Regions from separate parts of the Homo sapiens genome. Here region 1 is linked to region 2. The links come from fine-mapping of genetic effects on gene expression. A gene starts in region 2. The other region holds a variant in brackets. All regions are shown on one strand. Distances are between the middles of the regions.

The links.
Region 1: its variant is fine-mapped to the expression of SP3 in monocytes (Fairfax 2014, PIP 0.95).

The regions. Positions count from the first base shown.
Region 1 is chr2:174,034,738-174,044,318 of GRCh38, reverse strand. It overlaps the pseudogene RPSAP24. Among named protein-coding and RNA genes, the nearest start is that of LINC01960, 14 kb to the right of the region's middle. RefSeq lists enhancers at 4,104-4,398, 6,154-6,654, 6,655-7,155 and a silencer at 4,102-4,502. The variant G/A (reference allele first, on the strand shown) is at 4,766.
Region 2 is chr2:173,960,303-173,969,628 of GRCh38, reverse strand. SP3 (Sp3 transcription factor) reads left to right here and starts at 4,256. Exons shown (of 7, transcript NM_003111.5): 1 at 4,256-4,464; 2 at 5,076-5,224; 3 at 5,746-5,868. The coding sequence starts at 4,458. RefSeq lists silencers at 4,009-4,078, 4,579-4,858, 5,189-5,678, 5,809-6,058 and enhancers at 4,919-5,741, 5,742-6,565.

The sequences.
Region 1 (9,581 bases), 75 kb before region 2:
TATAATACACCCCAAATACTTTCAGAATGACTGACTGCTCCAATACCATTTCCTTTTTTTTTTTTTTTTTTTTTTGAGACGGAGTTTCACTCTTGTTGCCCAGGCTGGAGTGCAATTGCACAATCTCGGCCCACCACAACCTCCTTCTCCTGGGTTCAAGTGATTCTTCTGCCTCAGCCTCCCGAGTAGCTTTGATTACAGGCATGCGCCACAACGTCCAGCTAATTTTGTATTTTTAGTAGAGATGGGTTTCTCCATGTTGATCAGGCTGGTCTTGAACCCCAACTTCAGGTGATCCACCTGCCTCAGCCTCCCAAAGTGCTGGGATTTCAGGTGTGAGCCACGGGGCCCGGCCTACCATTTCCTTTTTAAAATAAATTGGTGTTTATTTCTGTCAGCCTTCTTTTCATGGTGCTTAAAAGCCTGTGGATAAACAGCTTAAGCCCATTCAGTGGTTGCTCCTACACGTTTAGTGGCTGAGCAGTGGGAGCTGCAGACTAGTCTTCCGTGGCAAGCAGAGCGCTCCAGTCTTCAGTAGGGAGCTGCTGAATAGGCACAGAGGGCATCTGCCACCTTTAGACCAGTCTGCGCCCTCAGGCTGAGTAGCAGTGGACTCAGGAGCTGCAGCAGTCCATTCATCCTGAAATTCCTCTTGGTCACAGCCTTTCTAGCAGCAGCCTGCTCTTCTTTACAATCTCTTCAGGATCTCTGTGGAAGCAGAGATCAGACATGACCTCCCATTCACAGATGGTGCCAGGCATGTACAAGACTTTCCAGGCTAGCATCTACCATGTCAAACCCCCTGAGTGAGCTCCCTTGTTGTTGCATTGGATGGCAAGGCCCACATAGTGCAGAGGAGAATCTGTGACACAGAGCAATGGTAGGTAGGTTAATGTAAGATGCCTCTGTGAGGGGCTGGTGGTCAGCCCTGGGATCAGTAACCACCAGAAGCTGTGGCTCCCGGAAGGCTGCTGAGATCTGGTTAGAGAATGTTCTAGGAGTAAAGCAGCCAGCAACAAGAGTGGCTCCAGTGACAGCAGCAAACAACGGCGTGGCTTTCTGGCCAGTTTTCCTGGAGGATATGACACTGACATCAGCAGGGTTTTCAATGGCAACAATGGCACAAGCTGCCAGCAGCAACTTCTCCCAGGTCTTCTTCTGATTTAGGATGTAGATGCCATCACTTTTCATTTTATAGATGTACTGTTCCATTTGGAAGTCAAAATTAGTGTCACCTAAGTGGGTTCCTGCTGCAAGGAACTTGAGGACATCCTCCTCCTTCATTGGCAGGACATCAAGGGCTCTGGACATTGTGAACGTTTCCCTTTAAATTAAGACAGGAATCCAGAACAAGCCAGAACGGACCCCTCTCTGGGTAGTGCAGAAGCCCATTTCCAACATCAGGCCTAAGAAAAGTTCAAGACTTCTTTGTAATACTATTTGTTCTTAGAATACATCCAGTTAAGGGTAGGTAGTCAGAATACTGTATTCACAGGTCATTTCAACCTTTTTTTTTTCCTGTATGGTTCTATTATTAATTTTATATGCAGTTAAGTTCATTTGTTTATATTTGCATTTAATTTTAAGCTTTTCTTTTTGACAAATCTCTCAAAATTTAAAAAATTTTAAATATGGGCCAGGCGTGGTGGCTCACACTTGTATTCCCAGCACTTTGGGAGGCCGAGGTGGGTGGATCACCTGAGGTGAAGAGTTCGAGACCAGCTTGGCCAACATGGCAAAACCCCATCTCTACTAAAAATACAAAAATTAGCCAGTTATGATGGCACACGTCTGTAATCCCAGCTACTCAGGAGGCTGAGACAGGAGACTCACTTGAACCCGGGAGTTGGAGGTTGCAGTGAGCTGAGATCATGCCACTGCACTCCAGTCTGGGTGACAGAGTGAGACTCCATCAAAAAAAAAAAAAATTAAATATGTAAAACTTTTACAAGGTTCAAAAGTCAAAACTATATATATATGTATATATAAAATTATATATGTAGTTATATATAACTATATATCAAAAACTATACTCAGAATTTGATATGGTTTGGCTGTGTCCTCACCCAAATCTCATCTCGAACTGTAGTTCGCACAATCCCTGTGAGTTGTAGGAGGGACCTGATGGGAGGTAATTGAATCATGGCGGTGGTTACCCCCATGCTGCTGTTCTCGTGATAGTGAGTGAGTTCTCACGAGATTGATGGTTTTATAAGGGGCTTTTCCCCCTTCTGCTTGGCACTTCTTCCTGCCACCATGTGAAGAAGGACGTGTTTTCTTCCCCTCCCACCATGATTGTAAGTTTCCTGAGGCATCCCCAGCCATGCTGAATTATGAATCAATTAACCCGCTTTCCTTTACAAATTACTCAGTCTCGGGTATGTCTTTATTAGCAGCGTGAGAACAGACTAATACGAAAGGGTAAACTCACATCCTTATTACTTCCACTCCATTCCTGCCAATCCCCTATAGGCAACTACTTGTTTTTGGTTTATTCTTCCTGTATCTCTCTTTCTTATACAAAAAACGTAGCATAATATATCCATTATTTAGTACTTTAATTTTTTTCACTTAACATATCCTGGAAATTACTACATGTTAATTCAGAGAAATATTCCTCAACACTTGTCAGCTGTGTAGTACTCCATTGTGTGACTGCATCACAGTTTATTCAATTACTATCCTAATTGAATGAAATTGTTTCTAATATTTTGCTGTTTAAGTAATGTCTCCGTGAACAACCTTATAAATACGTTGTTTTATATTTGTAGAAGTGTACTTTCAGGATAAATTCCTGGAGTTAGTATTACTGAGTCAAAGGGTAAATTGCATATATAGTTTTGCTAGATATTTCCAAATTCCCTCCACAGGGGTGTATCATTTTGCATTCCCACCAATGATTATGAGAATCATTACAGCCTTGCCAATGGACTGCATGGTCAAACTTCTGAAATTCTGTCAATTTTATAAAGATTGGTATCTCAATGTAGTTCTAATATATATTTATAACATAATGAGTGAAGTTGAACATCTTTCTGTATTTTAAGGTCCATCTACATATTTTTGTATCTGTGTGTATGAACTGTTTGTTCACGCCTTTTGCCTAATTTTCTATCAAGTTTTGGCCTTTTCCCCTCAATATTTAAAAGTTCATTACATTCCTAATATTACAGATTAACCTGTTTCTGTGAAAATGTTGCAAATATTTCTCACAATGTGCCAATTTTCTTGCCATGCAGCAGGTTTTTTTAAAGTTGTTGAATTTATTAATACTTTATTTTATGCCGTTGGAGTATTTTATTTTTCATTAGCAAAGCATTCATTTTGGTGTCAGGCTGAGCTTGGACTGGGTTTCCATGCCTCTCTTAAAATTTTTATTTGAAAAAAAAACTACTTTTTTATTTTATTTTATTTTTTGAGACAAGGTCTTCCACTCTGGCCCAGGCTGGAGTGCAGTGGTGTGATCTTGGCTCACTGCAGCCTCGACCTCCTGGCTCAAATGATTCTCCTGCCTCAGCCTTCAGAGTAGCTGAGACTACAGGGATGCAGTGCTGCACCTGGCTAATTTTTAATTATTTTATTTTACTTTTTGTAGAGACAGGGTCTCAATATTTTGTCCAGGCGGGTCTCAAACTCCTGGACTCAAAGGATCCTCCTGCCTGTCCTTCCAAAGTGCTGGGATTGCAGGTGGGAGCCACTGTGCCCAGCTCCATGCCCCTTGATATCTTAAGTGTCTTCCTTTTTGTGAGGCACAGCTTTGAGACCTCTTTTCCTGTCTGCCAAGAAGGCAAAGGGGGCAGTGGGCCCAGTCAGTTTAATTGTTTTTTATCTGTTTCCCTCCGCTTGATCCCAGGAGCCCAGGTTGGGGACAGTCACTTAGCTCTAATGGGGTAGGGCAGATGCCACATGGAGGTGAAGATTGCACACACATCCCCTTTCCCCCCCAACTCCTGTCTTAGCTGGAGGAGCAAGCGCCCAGAGGCCCTTTGGTTTGCGTCTGGGATTTGAATCATAGACAGACTTCCCACACCCAGGGTATAAAGAAGTCCACCGATGTGTCTTCTAATACTTGTTTGTGTTCATTTTTTACGTTTGAATTTCTGATCCATTTGAGATTATCTTGCTGCATGGTGAGGGGTATGGGTCCAGTTTTCTAATAGGCAAGGTGGCCTATGAAGTGGGGGCGGGGTAGCAGGGGGAGAAGGAGCCACGATCTTGATGGTCTGGGCCACTAGGTGGCGATCTTCCAGGTTTCTCCTCCTTCAGGACGGTAGGAGAAAATGCTGTTTTGTTTTCAGAAGAAAAAGGAAATGAGTCATTAGGTTTAATTGGCCAAGAGGAAGCCCTAGTAAAAAGTTCCCCTCTGTCTACGCAACCTTGATTTCTGAAGGCAGGCCCTGTGCTTCTTTCCCTGTGTTAGAAAACATCATTTCCTCTGTGTCTCTGTTTCTCACCAGGAGGCTGATGTGGGCCAAGTGTGCGTGCACAAACACTGCCTTTGCCGTGAGCGCCTCCAGGTCCTGCGTAAGGCCATGGAGAGACTTCAAAGAGAGGTCAAGATGGCATTGCCCTGCCGTGTGCCTCTTGGGAAGCCTGGGCCTCGGAGTGACAAGACCTTGGTTCCTGTCCCAGTGCTGCTGCCACCCGGCCCTGTCATTGCAGGCATGCCACCTAGCCCTCTCTTCCTCAGTGTCCTCATCTATAAAATGGAACAATGTCTTCCCTAACCATGTGCCAAGGATTTCAATGGGATAAAATGATATAT[G/A]TGTGCTGCAAAGTAAAAACACTGTGTAAATATATTTCCACCATTATTATGGTTATATTTTATATGTGGATGCATCTCTATGGAAGATCTATTCTTTTTCTTTTCTTTTTCTTTTTTTTTTTTTTTTTCCGAGACGGAGTCTCACTCTGTCGCCCAGGCTGGAGTGCAATGGCATGATCTCGGCTCACTGCAACCCCTGCCTCCTGGGTTCAAGCGATTTTCCAGCCTCAGCCTCCTCAGTAGCTGGGATTACAGGCACCCGCCACCACGCCCGGCTAATTTTTTTATTTTTAGTAGAGACGGGATTTCACCATGTTGGTTAGGCTGGTCTCAGCCTCCTGAACTCGTGATCCACCCACCTCGGCCTCCCAAAGTGCTGTGATTACAGGCGTGAGCCACCACCCCCGACCGATCTATTCTATATCTTACAAGAATTTGTATTTATAGGCTGTATTAATAGGTTGATTTGCTGTTTATAAGGTGTTTTTTTTTTTCACACATCCTCTCTTCTGTGAAAGGGACACAGCCTTAATGAGAAAATGGACTGGTTTTGAAAGAACTGCCAAAGTAGCGACCTTAGGAGAAGGTCTACAATGTGCTTTCTCTGAGGTTGTGTACAGAATTATGTGTGTGTGTAATTTTTCCCAGCTTGTATCAGATTGCTATAGGAGTTCATAGCTCAAAGGTGGTTAAGAACCACATTCTTGAAAAAGGGAGCCAGACTGGCCTCAGGACCCCCTCCCCATTTGGCTTCTGGGAGGACTGAACTGGTTCCAGTCCTTTCTTAAGTCCTACATGGGGTCTTAAGGCTACTGATCTCCCTCCTTGCTGTAGCTGGTCTGGAGAGAAAGAGAAAAGAGAAACGGGAAGGGCTTGTAGTGTCTAGAAACCAGAGGTGAAACTCTAAGTTAGTAAGGCTTCAACGGCAGCTCTGCAGGAGGTCAGAAAACAATTTAGTCTTGCAAAATTCTTTTTGTCATGCCACAGTGGTCCTCTTTCTGCTCCTCAAGTGTGCTAAGGTTGATGCTACCTTGGGGCATTTTGCAGAGGCTCTTTTATTTACCTAGAATATTGTTGCCCTGGCTTCTCCTGGACTGGCCCCTTCTTTTTATCCAGCTCCAATGTCATTTTCTCTGAAAAGTCCTCCCGATCCCACAATTCCCCCGGCCCAAATTATTTTCCAAGAGCATCTGTCACCATGGGAAATCATCTTTTTTATTTGTTTACTTTGTTGTCTGCATTGCCTGCCTTTCTCCCAACAGAATTAAAACTCCCTTTGGGTAGTAGCTACATGTCATTTCTAGAGTCTACAGCAGTATCTGCCACAAAGTAAGCACTCAGTACACTCCTATGGAATGGACACTTGTATCATGAAAGGAGCTGAGTTCTTGTTAGAAGGTGCTGCATGGCATCTGTGACTCGTCTTTCCCTTGGTGCCAACTCTATGTCACCAAATCTTCAGTGGGTTCTACTTCTGAAGAATGTCTTATACCTGTCCCTCTGTCCCCTCCTATTTCCCACATTCCCAGAGCCACTGCTCTGATACCTGGGTAGTGACAGCCCTATACCTTTCTCCCTGCTGCCCACGCTTCCTAAAAGGCGAGTGGCCCTGCCCCTGCTCTACTTCACCCCTTGCTTCCATTCACGCCCCACTTCTGGGACAGCCAATCCCTCTTGGTATTCTCCTGCCATTCTTGGACTAAATCAAAGCATCTTCCCCGCAGTACCCCGAGGTCCTGCCTTCCAGCCGGCAGACCTTGCTCTTCTCAGTAGCAGAGCCCAGCATGGAAGGGGAGGGAGTTCCTTAGGAATCTCTTAAGAAGACCTGAGGTCCACTGTGGATTCATGAGGCTCCTGAAGGCAGCAGGGGGTGTGAAGAGGGGCTGGGCAATAGCCAGAGGGAGCTTTCTGAAGATGGCTCAGGAGGAAGTGGAAAAGGGCCCCGCACAGGCAGATCTGGGGTCCCAGACAGCTCATGGGGAGCGTTGGGTAAAGGATTCTGGGGCTGCCCTAACACAAAGCGGTCAAGGCCTTGGAAGAGCTGGAGTGGAGATGCTCGCAGGCAGTGTGGTAACCCTACCCCTTCTTGCCTCTTATGCAGCCATATGCCTGTCCAAGGGTGAGCTGGTGGGCTGTGTAGGAAATTAAGAGGGGATCAAGCAAACCCAGGGAGACAGGACATCTGGCATTGCTGAGGGAACTGCCCACAGCCAATGTGGCCCTTCTCTTCCCATCAAAAGCTGTTGCCAGGTGTAGGTGGGCAGGGGCTGGCAATGGCTTGTACCTTGTATATTAGAAATTTATTGTGGTCTGTTCAGGTAACAATGTTTAGAGACCTTTCTTATGAAAGGTGCTATGTTCCCTGTGAGTCATTAAGACTATTTATTTATTTTTAATACCAAATGTCTAAATTCATCTACCCTCTAGGGATCATTTCATCTTGTACTGTGTGCTATCTCAGCAGAAAAAATGCTTTCCCCAAATGTGTCAGTTCTATTTTTAAAAAGGTTCAGTGACCTATTTCTGTAATTCTCACAGACACTGGAAGTACAGCAGAGACTATTTAGGCTCAGCTTTGTCACCAAAAAGTTACCCTGGCTTCCAGGTGTTGCCTAGAGAGATGCCATCTTGCTTTGCAATGGAGAAGCATAAATAAGAGGAGTACACCTGTCCCCCCTCATGGAGGGAATTCACCCCAAGACTCTCAGTGTTTGTCTGAAACTACAGATAGTACTGAACCCTACATAGGCTACGTTTTTTCCTGTATATACATACTTATGATAAAGCTTAATTAATAAATTAGACACAGTAAGAGATTAGCAACAATAACTAATAACAAGATAGAACAATTAAGTGAAGTAAGAGTTACTGGAACACAGGCATAGTGATACTGCCAAGAGGGCTACGGAGCAACCACGGGCAGGGAGCGTCTATGGCACCAAGATGCTGGACAAAGGGGTGAGTCACGTCCTGGCAGGACAGAGTGGGGCAGTATGGGATTTAATCATGCCACCCAGAACAGTATACAACTGAAAACTTAGGAATTGTTTATTTCTGGTGTTTCCATTTAATATTTTCAGACCAAGGCTGATCATGGGTAACTGAAACTATGGAAAGTGGAACTTTGGATGGGGGGACTACTACATTGTCAGGATAAGATCATGAGAGCAAAAAACGTACACACATAGACACACATACGACATGTTTCTCCAGTTTCAAACAATGTCATGATGACTACACTCCGCCTTTAGCCAAACTCGACATTGGGAAATAGCTTAAGAATCAACAGTTTCTGAGACAAAGAACTTAAAAAGACAATTTACAAAAGAGAAACTACAGCTCATCAACTAAGATGTGGCAAGCGGTTAGATCCACTAGTAATCCAGGAAATGAAAATTAGAGCAACGCCACTTTCCAAAACTAGCCCCTGGTGGGAGAAGTCAGAACAACGATGACCCTTGGGTGGAGTGGAGGAGGGGGAACGGGGCCACAATAGTGGCCTCTAGGGGTAAGGTTCTGTTTCTTAATCTGGGTGCTGATTACTCAGGGGTGTTCACTTTGTAAAAATTCACTCGTGATTTGTGTACTTTTCTGAACGCATGATAAACTTCACTACAAAGTTTACATTAAAAAATCAAGCTCACTTTTTACCTATTAAATTAGCAAAAACAATTTTTTTTTAGTAATACTAGCCAGTGTGGTTTAAGCCATCACAAAGCTAACATTTTTACATATTGCTAATCACAGTATACATTAATATAGTGCCCTTTGGGGAGGAATTTGGCAGTATGAATGTAAAACTCTTGAGAAGCGTTCATACTTGTTAATTCGATAACTTCACTTCTGAGACTCTGTCTTAAAGAAATAACCCTAAATGCCAAAAAATGGTTTATGTGCACATACGCATTGCAATATCATTTATAGTAACAAAAATTGACAACATCAAAACACTGAAAGTAATCTAAATGTCCAACTCTAGGGCAATGGTTAAATAAACTTTGACAAATTCACATGATGATATTTTATGCACTCATTACAATAAACTAAAGTGAGTAATGACAGAAGAAAACACAATATAGTAAGTAGGAAAAGCAGGATATGAAATTGTAGACATGACTACAGCTAAGATTAAAAAAAAAAAAAAAACCCTACACAGAGAAAATCCCCAGAAGATCTTAAAAAATGAGTAATACTAGTGTTTGGATAACAGGACTATGAGTGGGATATTTTCTTTAATTAACTTTCCTGTGTTTTCCAAATGTTATTTAATGAGCCCGTATTGCTTTGTTGAAAGAGGGAATGTTCAGAGTCATCCTTGTGTGTGACTCTTCTGTTTCAGAAGGTGCTGCCTATGGTTCTCCCAGGTCCCCCACGTCCCAGCAGTCTGTGCTTTGGTGCCTGATATCGCCATTCCAGGATGAATGGAGCCAGTGATATTTAGGAGCAAACTGATTATCTGTCTCCTTTCTGCAGGGCTGACTAAAAACTGTCAACCCTGAAGGCCCTACTGAAGCAAGGTGTAGGGAGTTCAGGATGGAGCTCTACATTCTGTGGTTTGTAAGGAAGACTCAGTTGGAAAGTCTTCTGCTGGGTCACTAGGTAACCGCAGTGCCTAGTTCATTCGTTCATCCTCCCCTGTCTGCTGGTTCTTTCGGTTCAGGGAGAAATGTTCAACTCTGCTTCCTTCTCTAGACATCACCTTCACTCTCCTTTCCTTCCAGCCAAAGAACTTGAAAGGCAAGTCTTTGATACACTTCTTCTACATCTATCGTTTGCCTACCCCCCAACCTGCACCCCATTGCTGTGTTCTGGCTCA
Region 2 (9,326 bases):
CTTCTCCTAACCACATCATTTTTTTTTTCCCCTTTCTCTTACCTTCTCTAACTAGGCTTTGGGTATCATTGACTCTTTTGAGATTAGTTGTTGTTTATGTCTGGTTTATATGACCAAAGAAAATAAACAAATTCTATTATCTAATTGAATCATAAAGTATGAATACACTCCATGCTGAAGGTTGTTGCTCCTCATTTAAGGACATCACACTTTAATGGCTTGAGGTTATTTATTACTATTTTTGAGAAAGGAAGAGATGAAATATGAGGGGGTTAAGTGTATTTAATGTAAACTAAAATGTTTCTGAAGTGTGATAGTGATTATGTAGTAGAACAACTTAAGATCCTTGAAATCCAGTGTGAACAGGTTAAAGAGCTCTAGGATGGTTAAAAGTAAGGTCACAATAATAGAAACAAAGGTTATGTTCTTGAGACATTAATTTAGGTTGAATGATATAGAATTGTCACCTTTTAAGATAAAAAACAGTTGAATACTGGCAATTTCATATGGTCCACTTGATAGACGTTCAGGAGGGAAGAAATGCAGAAGTAGGGAGTGTGAAGGAAAGGGCATAGGTCTTCAGGTGTGGTACCGTCAACCAGGGCCATCACTTTTTAATACTGAATGGCTAGGCTCTTGCAGATGTAGATCAAACCGTATTTAGTTGTCTCTTCTGTTTGTAGGGAAGAAACGGGTTGCAAAATATTCCATGCCAACAGGTGTATAGAAGCCTTCAGGGATTTTTCACCGTCATCACATTTCCAAAGGATTTAAGAAAACTTACAAAAACACATGACATTTTAAAAAGTGAGGAAATCGAGGATATGGGAAAAGAAAGTGACATCCAGATCTCCTAATATGATGTAAACAATGGCCAGCACAGTACTTCCTCAAATCGTTTTGGAAGAAAAAGTATAAATAATATCCAGCACTGTGATTCTCTCCCTGCTAAGCAACTGCAATTTTGGGTTACTATGTAAATGTAGCAGTAGGTGCCATTGAGAGGCAGCTTTCTAATAAGAAAATAAGTATTTTAATTAAATTGTATTTCGGCCGGGCTCATGCCTGTAATCCCAGCACTTTAGGAGGCAGAGGCGGGCGGATCACAAGGTCGGCAGTTCAAGACCAGCCTGGCCAACATGGTGAAACCCTGTCTTTACTAAAAATACAAAACTTAGCCAGGCATGCTGGCGGGCGCTACGTGATCCCAGCTACTGGGGAGGCTGAGGCAGGAGAATCACTTGAAGCCGGGAGGCGGAGGTTGCAGTGAGCCGAGACCATGCCATTGAAAAAAAAAATTTGTATTTCAAGATTTGACTACAATACTGAAATAGGTAGGAAAAGGTGTTCTTTCAAGAGACTATCTTCATTTCCAGCCATTTTAAAAAGCTATTCCATGACAATAACTCAAGTGTGGTCTAAGAGGGTTCTCTGAATCTGACTAAAGTAGTGAGTGATGCTTTTGGTATATGCATCTTTTGTTAAAAAATTTAAAAAACGGATACATATTTGTACATATTTATGGGGTACATGTGGTATTTTGATACATGCATACAGTGTTGTAATGATCAAATCAGAGTGTTTAGGGTATCTATCACTTTGGACATTTTTTTTCCGCCCCCTCTCCCCTGTCACCTTGAACATTTGTCATTTCTTGTGTTGGGAACATTTCAAATCTTCCCTTCCAGTTATTTTGGAATATAAAATATATTGCTATTTACTATAGTCACCCTACTGTGCTATTGAACACTAGAACTTATTCCTTCTATCTAACTGTATGTTTGTACCAATTAACCAACCTCTGTCACCCTACCTCCATATGTATCTCTTAAAAGCATCGCATCAAAAGCAGTATAGTTAGTTCAGGTAGGTTTTTTTTTTTGGGACAGTCTCAGTCTTGCTGGAGCGCAGTGGTGCCATCTCGGCTCACTGCAACCTCCACCTCCCAGGTTCAAGTGATTCTCCCGTCTCAGTCTCCTGAGTAGCTGGGATTACACGTGTGCGCCACCAAGCCTGGCTAATTTTTGTATTTCAAGTAGAGATGGGGTTTCACCATGGCAATCAGGCTGGTCTCGAACTTCTGACCTCAAGTGATCTGCCTGCCTTGGCCTCCCAAAGTGCTGGGATTACAGGTGTGAGCCACCACGCTCAGCTAGGCTATTTTTTTCTTTTTCAGAAGTGTTTTTTTTGCTTGTCAAAATGGTCTGCGGACGTGCCGTCCCCACCCCCCAAAAAAGAAAGAAAAAAGACAATTCATGTCTCATATCATTTGCCAATTGGTATCAATGAAGAAACGAATTTAACTCCTGTGGCCAAGTACTTTGCTCTCAAGGTGGCTGGACTAACACTTTGCAAAAAGGGTATGGCGATAGCGTAGAACATATCCCCACTCCTGAAAAAAAAAACAAAACAAAACTGAAAATGCCTGAAATATCCTTTCTAGGGAAAGAGCTACCTTCCACCCAAGAGATCCGGGTAGGAACAGAGTGATAATAGTGACTTCCCTTCCTCCCTCCCAGTCCACTTATTTTCACCTGTCCCGCTCTTCAAGGCACCCATCTCTTTTTCCATTTTCCCCACCCCAAATCAGGTTATTTTGTGACTTTTATTTCCTTAAAAGTTTTTGTTGTAAAATAGTACATAGGTTATACGACTCAACTTTGAAAGTGACTTTTCCACTTAAATATGAGACTACAAGGACTATTAGAAGAGATGAACCCTATTCTTGGACTCAGAATTTTGAGTCTCGTTTCCGCATGTTTGTGGTTTTTAGGTTAATTCCCTGGAAATTTGATCTTTGTACAATTAAGAGCAAAGTAACCATACAATGTTTCTGATCCTGTCAGCATAGGCGGTTAAGTGCTTTGGAACTGGGATGTAAACTCAGTATCTCACAAATGGATTACCTATTAAGTTAGGACACACAAAATCTGGTTAAAGTGCTTGGACTTCACAACCTCATCCACCAGCACATCACATATCACACAAAATATAATAATCACAGTAATGGGAAAACTGAATCTTGAGCCAGATTTCTAAAAAACAGGTATTGTGGACAGTGTTTCCACCTCTTGAATTTAACTTCTTTCTTGGCAACTATACTTGAAGGTAACAGGGAGAGATGTCTCTTAGTTGGCAAAACACACACTTAAAACCTGAGCATTTTCCCCCAGGATGACAGCAAGATACCAAGGATGCCAAAGAAGGAAGGAGTGTTAACCTAATCCAGTAAGAGAAACAAGATTTTAAAATACAACAAAAATGTTCCAATGGGGGAAAAAAGGTAGTTCACCGGTTCACGACTTTAAAAAACGTTGGCAGTGGTTGATGGGCTTATTTCAGGAGATATCTGACTTGGTACCAAGAGGATAAAGAGGCCGGGAATAATACGTTTGTGCAGCAAAATGGTTATGTGACCGATTTTTTAAAACACAGAATTCTGCCCCACTGAATACATACACATACCACAAGTAAAATGAAATATACTTTTAAGTGCCCGTTTTGGTGCCACTGGCCAAAATTAAAACTCTCCTTCCGTATGTGAGGTGACTTGAGATTTCTTTTTTGCTTTAAATGCCTGCCTTCAGGGTACGTGAAAGTGGGAGACCGGTTGGAAAACTGGGGCTAAGGGGGCTGGGAGCGAGATGGCTGTGACTGAATCAGGAAGCTGGATGTGAGAGAGAAAAATCCTCCTCCAGCCTCGGAGGGGGTGTCTCCCCTAATACCAGCTCCCTCCCCCCGGGCTCGTGGGGCGGGTCTGGTTTGCTCAGTAGCGGCAGCGGCCGCAGCAGCAGCCCCGGGGCTGAGCAGCGGTGGCCTCCTGGCAGCGCAGGGAAGCGGCGGCTCCAAGAGCGCGAGGCCCTGGGGAGATCCGGCCAAGACTGCTGCCGGGATGGAGGAAGCGTCCAGTGGAGCAGGAGTCACCGGGGACGAATTTCCTCCCCAGCTCAGCTCCCCTACAGCTTGGCTAGGCCTGCTCCGAGCGCCTGCAAGGTGGAGGAGGCCTGCGCCTCGGGCCTGGCAGCGGCAGCCGGCGAGGGAGGCGGGCACAGCGGGGTAACCGGCGAGCCGTAGCCGCTCTCGAAAACCTACGCTGCCACGGCCGCTCATTGTCTCTCCCCTTCCACCCGGGGGCAAACAGGAAGCGCGCCGCCTGGCAGACCGACGGACAGGCGCCTGGACCAATGAGCACAGCCGACAAAGAGCACGGCGGCGAATGAGAGCCAAGAAGAGGGGCGGGAGTTCCGGGCGGGCTGTCACCCTCTTCCCCCCTTTTGGGCTGGAGGCTCCACCTTTTGTGTTTCCCGCACAGTCAATCAAAATAGGAAAAAAAAATCCCCGGACCGCTCCGGCCGTGTCCGCCGCCGCTTCCCGCATCCTCTCCCGCCGCCGCCGCCTTCGCTCCTCACCATGTGTAAGGCGGCGGGGAGCCCCGCCTGAGGTGCCCTAAACACACTATGACCGGTACGTAAAGCCGAGAGAGCAACCCTTGCTGCTGCCGCCGCCGCCGCTGCCGCCGACCACAGCCAGCCCGGGGCCGCTGCCGCCGGTCTCGGCCCCGTGTGTGCGACCGAGTGTCTGTGAGAGGCAGAAAGCTGCACTCCCCTGCGCCTCCCTCCCCTCCCCGCCAGCCACCGTCCACCCCCGAAGCCCCAGCAACGCCGTCTCCCCGCCAGGCCCCGGGGCGGGCGGCCCGGTCCGCCGGGAGCGCATCCCCCTGTGTGCGGGCGCGGGCGGGCGTGTGTGAGTGACTGACGGTGCGAGAGGAGCGAGCGCGAGTGAGAGCGAGCGGCGCGAAGGGAAAGGGGAGGAGAGGAGAGGGGGCAGGGGCAGCGCGGGGAGGAGGAGGAGGAGGGAAAGAGGAGGAGGAGGAGGGTTACAGGCAGCGGCGGGCGGGGGCAGCAGCAGGAGGGGAGGAGGGAGCCGCCGCCGCCGCCGCCGCCGGGGGGCGGGTGGGGGAGGGGAAGGGGCCTGGGTCCGGGCTTTGGGAGTAATTTCGCTTCGGCCCGCGGGCCCCCTCCCTCTCCGCCACCCGCCTTCCTCCCCACCCCCACCCCCCCGCGCTGTGCCTGCAGCTCCCGAAAAGCCCGTGAAACAAGAGGAAATGGCTGCCTTGGACGTGGATAGCGGCGGCGGCGGTGGCGGCGGCGGCGGCCACGGCGAGTATCTGCAGCAGCAGCAACAGCACGGAAACGGTGCGGTGGCGGCGGCAGCGGCGGCCCAGGTGAGGAGCGGCTGAACCCCGGCCCGGCTCCCCCCTCGCGCCGCTTTCTCCTCCCCTCGCCTCTCCCCTCCCTCCTCGCCTCACCCCTCCCTCCTCGTCTCTCCCCTCCCCTCCACTCCCCTCCCCCCGCCCCGGGAGCTGCCCGCCCGAGGCGCCAACGCTCCGACCCCGCCCGCGCCGCCCCGCCTCGCCCGCCTGCCGCCTTTTTGTGCGCGTGTGAGTGTGGGCCCCAGCGTGCCCTCCCGGGGGTGGGTTCCGGGCGGAAGGCGGAGGCCCGGCGCGCAGCCCGCCGCCCGCCTGCCCGCGGACCGGGGAGCCGGGGTGCTTGGAGCGGGGGACGCCAGGCGTGGGCTGGCGGCGGGACCAGGAGGAGGAGGAGGAGGAGGAGGAGAGCGCGGGCTGGCGCTTGCCCGGGCGCAGTCGGCGGGGACCGAGTCGTACTTCCTGTGCGAAAGGCGGCCCGACCCTAACCGCCACCCCCTCCCCCTGTCTCCCTCTCTGAACCCGCCCATTGGGGGTAGGACACTCAGCCGTCACCGCTCGCTCTGCTGGCCGCTACCTGCAGCAAGATAGGGCCGCCATCGCCGGGCGACGACGAGGAGGAGGCGGCCGCCGCAGCCGGGGCCCCCGCCGCCGCCGGAGCGGTAAGTCCCGCGCGCGGCCCGCCCCCGCCGAGGCCGGGCGCCCGCCATCCCGGACCCGTGGCGCGCCTGCCCAAAAGGCCTCCCCGGCGCCCGCGCTTCCCCCGACCCGCACGGGCCGCTGGGCTCCAGGGCGCCCTTTCCTGCTCTTTCGCATCCCGGTTTGGATCTGAAGCCAGCCCAGGCTTTCTCGAAATTGTCACTGCAGCACCTCGCGCAAAATCTTCACAAAATGAAGTCTGAGAGGGCGGGGGTAGAGGACTCCAAAATGGATGTTTGAGCAATTCATATCAGTGCTGAAAACTCCTTCGCTTAACACTACAAAATTTTCAAGCACAGCCTATCGGCCATAGATAGTATCAACTAGAGGCAATGTCTTTAGTTTTTATTATTTTTGAACCTGGAGCATTTTCTGTTGGACGTTACAGGATCTTACTGCTTTAAATCATACATTATTAAAAAAAATGAGGGTTTATTCTTTGAATTACCCTTTTGTATGCAGGAGTGAAGACTGCTTTTTTAGTTGACCATTCAAAATCGTTGAATTTTAGTTTTTGCAGACTACTAAAATTTGCAGTGACTTTTTTTTTGTAAGGGGGGTAAATGAAACATTTAGCAGCCTTTGAAATCAGCAAGTTGCTTAGATAGTACTTTAGATTTTGAAACTGAATATAACAGTGTTAGAAAAGTATGTGTAAGGAATTGTATTTACGTGCATACTAGTAGTACAATACTTATAGCTGAATTTGGTTGGCAAAAGTATGTTTTCATTTTATTACGACTGCTAGTCAGGTAAGATATGGTGGGATTCTTTCTGTAGTGTTTTCAGTGTCTGGGCAAGGGGAGGAGCTCGCCTGTGTTATATGAGGGGTTAATACCAATAGGATAGGAACAGTTTTTAGACTGTTAATTGTGAATTTTACATTTGGGTCATCACTGTTGTGTAGATTTGTTCACCTATTAAAATAATGAAAACCCTCATTTGAGTGTGTGTGTGTGGTGGATCATAGGAATTGATTTGTGGAGTGATACTTTCAATAGTCACTGAAGACAGAAGTTTGGTATTTGGTATAGTCTACAACAAATGCTTAGTATGTCCAGGTATTTTTTTTTTTTAAGTTAAACCAATGTTAAGCTATTACTGGTAAATAATTTGTAATTTTAGTGCTTCGTTATAGGGGATGTGAATAGTTTTAATGTCTTGTTTTTTCATAAGCAGATTAACATGTAAAAATGTAAAATTATATTAGGCTTTGTTATTTTTAAATACATTTATGGATTGGTACGCCTTCTGTTCACCTCATTTCAGCTTCGCTGAGAGTTGGTAGATTTTTTTATGAACTGTATCCCTCTAGTTCCAAAGTGCCAAAACAAATTGACTGTATCTTAAAAAACTACTGCATAAGTAAAATTAAAAAGCAGATTGCTTCTCCTGATCTTTTTTGTATTTCAAATGGAACAAAACTTTTCTTGTAACTGTAATTTGTAAAGTTTAGATATCAGTTTACAGATGGGGGAGGGGAGAAGGAAGGAAATATGGGTGAATAATATGTGTATGTACATACATATGTGAGTCTGAGGCCCAAGGATAGAATACTGTCTCCAACCTTAGCCAGCTGTGGCCATATACTTGTAGGGAAGTTTCCATGCTTCTTCAGCTGCTTTTCTGAATTACCAAATCACTCCTGACAACACATATTCTGCCACATGAAGACGAACTAGAATCAATCTGATAAATCTGAGATTTATCAATCAAATACATCATAATTTGCCAATCATAGTAAAATGAAAATAGTTTTGCCTAAAAAAAAAAAAAAAAAAAAAAAAACCCAAACCATATATTTATGATGTCTGGTACCTGCACCCAAGATTTTTCACTTTGAGTAAAATTGGTAAGACTGGCTTGTGTGTATTTGCCTTAGCAAATAGAAAATTTGCTAAAAATTTATTTTTCCAGTGCAAATATGAACTTAAGACATCTTTTCAGCACATCTTAGAAAAGGAAATTCACATGAGTTCATGGGCTTAGATAATCTTTTATTACTCAAATGACTGGGAATTATGAGAGGTTATAGCTGTGTTTTTAAATAATTGTATTTTGGAATAATTTTAAATTTATAGAAAAGTTGGAAATACAGAACTGAGTAATCTCATACCCTTCATCCAGCTTCCCCTAATGTTAGGATAATGATGATACATTTGTCCAAATTAAGACATGAACATTGGTATGACATTACTAACCAGACTTTGTTTGCGTTTCACCAGCTTTTCCACTAATGTCCATTTTCTCTTCTGGGATCCAGTCCAGGATTCCACATTGCATATATATTGTTGTGTTTAAACAAGTGGAAATATACACATACAGATGAACTTTATGCCAGTTTAGCTTGGTATTTTGAGATTAAAAGGGCCTTGAAAAGCCAATCAACTGTGCTGAAGATTGCTTTTAATATTTGGATTTTGAATTTGGAATTTGTCATAAAAGAGGATCCTAGCCAAGGGTGTTTGGTTACCCACAGTACATTGCTGAAGAAGTCTAGTCATAAAGCAGTCTCGTATATAATGTCGTACAACATGGACTCTGAAAGATGGTTTTATAGCAACGCTCCTTTGTACTTAAGTTGTGGCTAATTTTAGTAGTAAACCAGGAAATAGAAAAAAGTAGACCTTTGTGCAAGTATTAACTTTGACCAGTTTGCATTTATGTGAACTTGTGGATTATTAATTTACTTCATTTTTACTTTAGTGGAATAAAATAAGTGACTTTTATTTTTATTTTTATTTTTTTGAGACAGAGTCTCACTCTGTCGCCCAGACTGGAGTGCAGTGGCGCGATCTCGGCTCACTGCAGGCTCTGCTTCCTGGGTTCACAGCATTCTCCTGCCTCAGCCTCCCGAGTAACTGGGACGACAGGCGTGTGCCACCATGCCCGGCTAATTTTTTTTTTTTGTATTTTTAGTGGAGACAGGGTTTCACCGTGTTAGCCAGGATGGTCTCGATCTCCTGACCTCATGATCTGCCCACCTTGGCCTCCCAAAGTGCTGGGATTACAGGCGTAAGCCACTGCGCCTGGCCTAAAATAAGTGACTATTATGAAAGTGATTGCTTGATCTTTGGTTTAGGTTGTAAATTTAGTGTTCCTTAATTTGGCACATAAATGTTGAGCTAAAAAATAAGTAATAGCTTACTTCAAAAAAGTTATTTTGCCATTATTTAAAATAAGACCTGTGCTGTCATTGTAACTAATTCATTGGGTAGGGTAATTCTATTTGAAGTCTGAGTTCTTTTAGTGCTCTTTGAAGATTTTAAGAAACTTGAATATTTGCCTAAGTTCTTAATTTGTTTCCACCTCAGCTTCACACCTGTTCTTGTTTCCAGTTATACTCCTTCCTTTCCTATTTCTGGCTTTCGTAAAGGCATTCGTGGGAACTAAGTTAATAATCATTTCCAAATGCTATGCA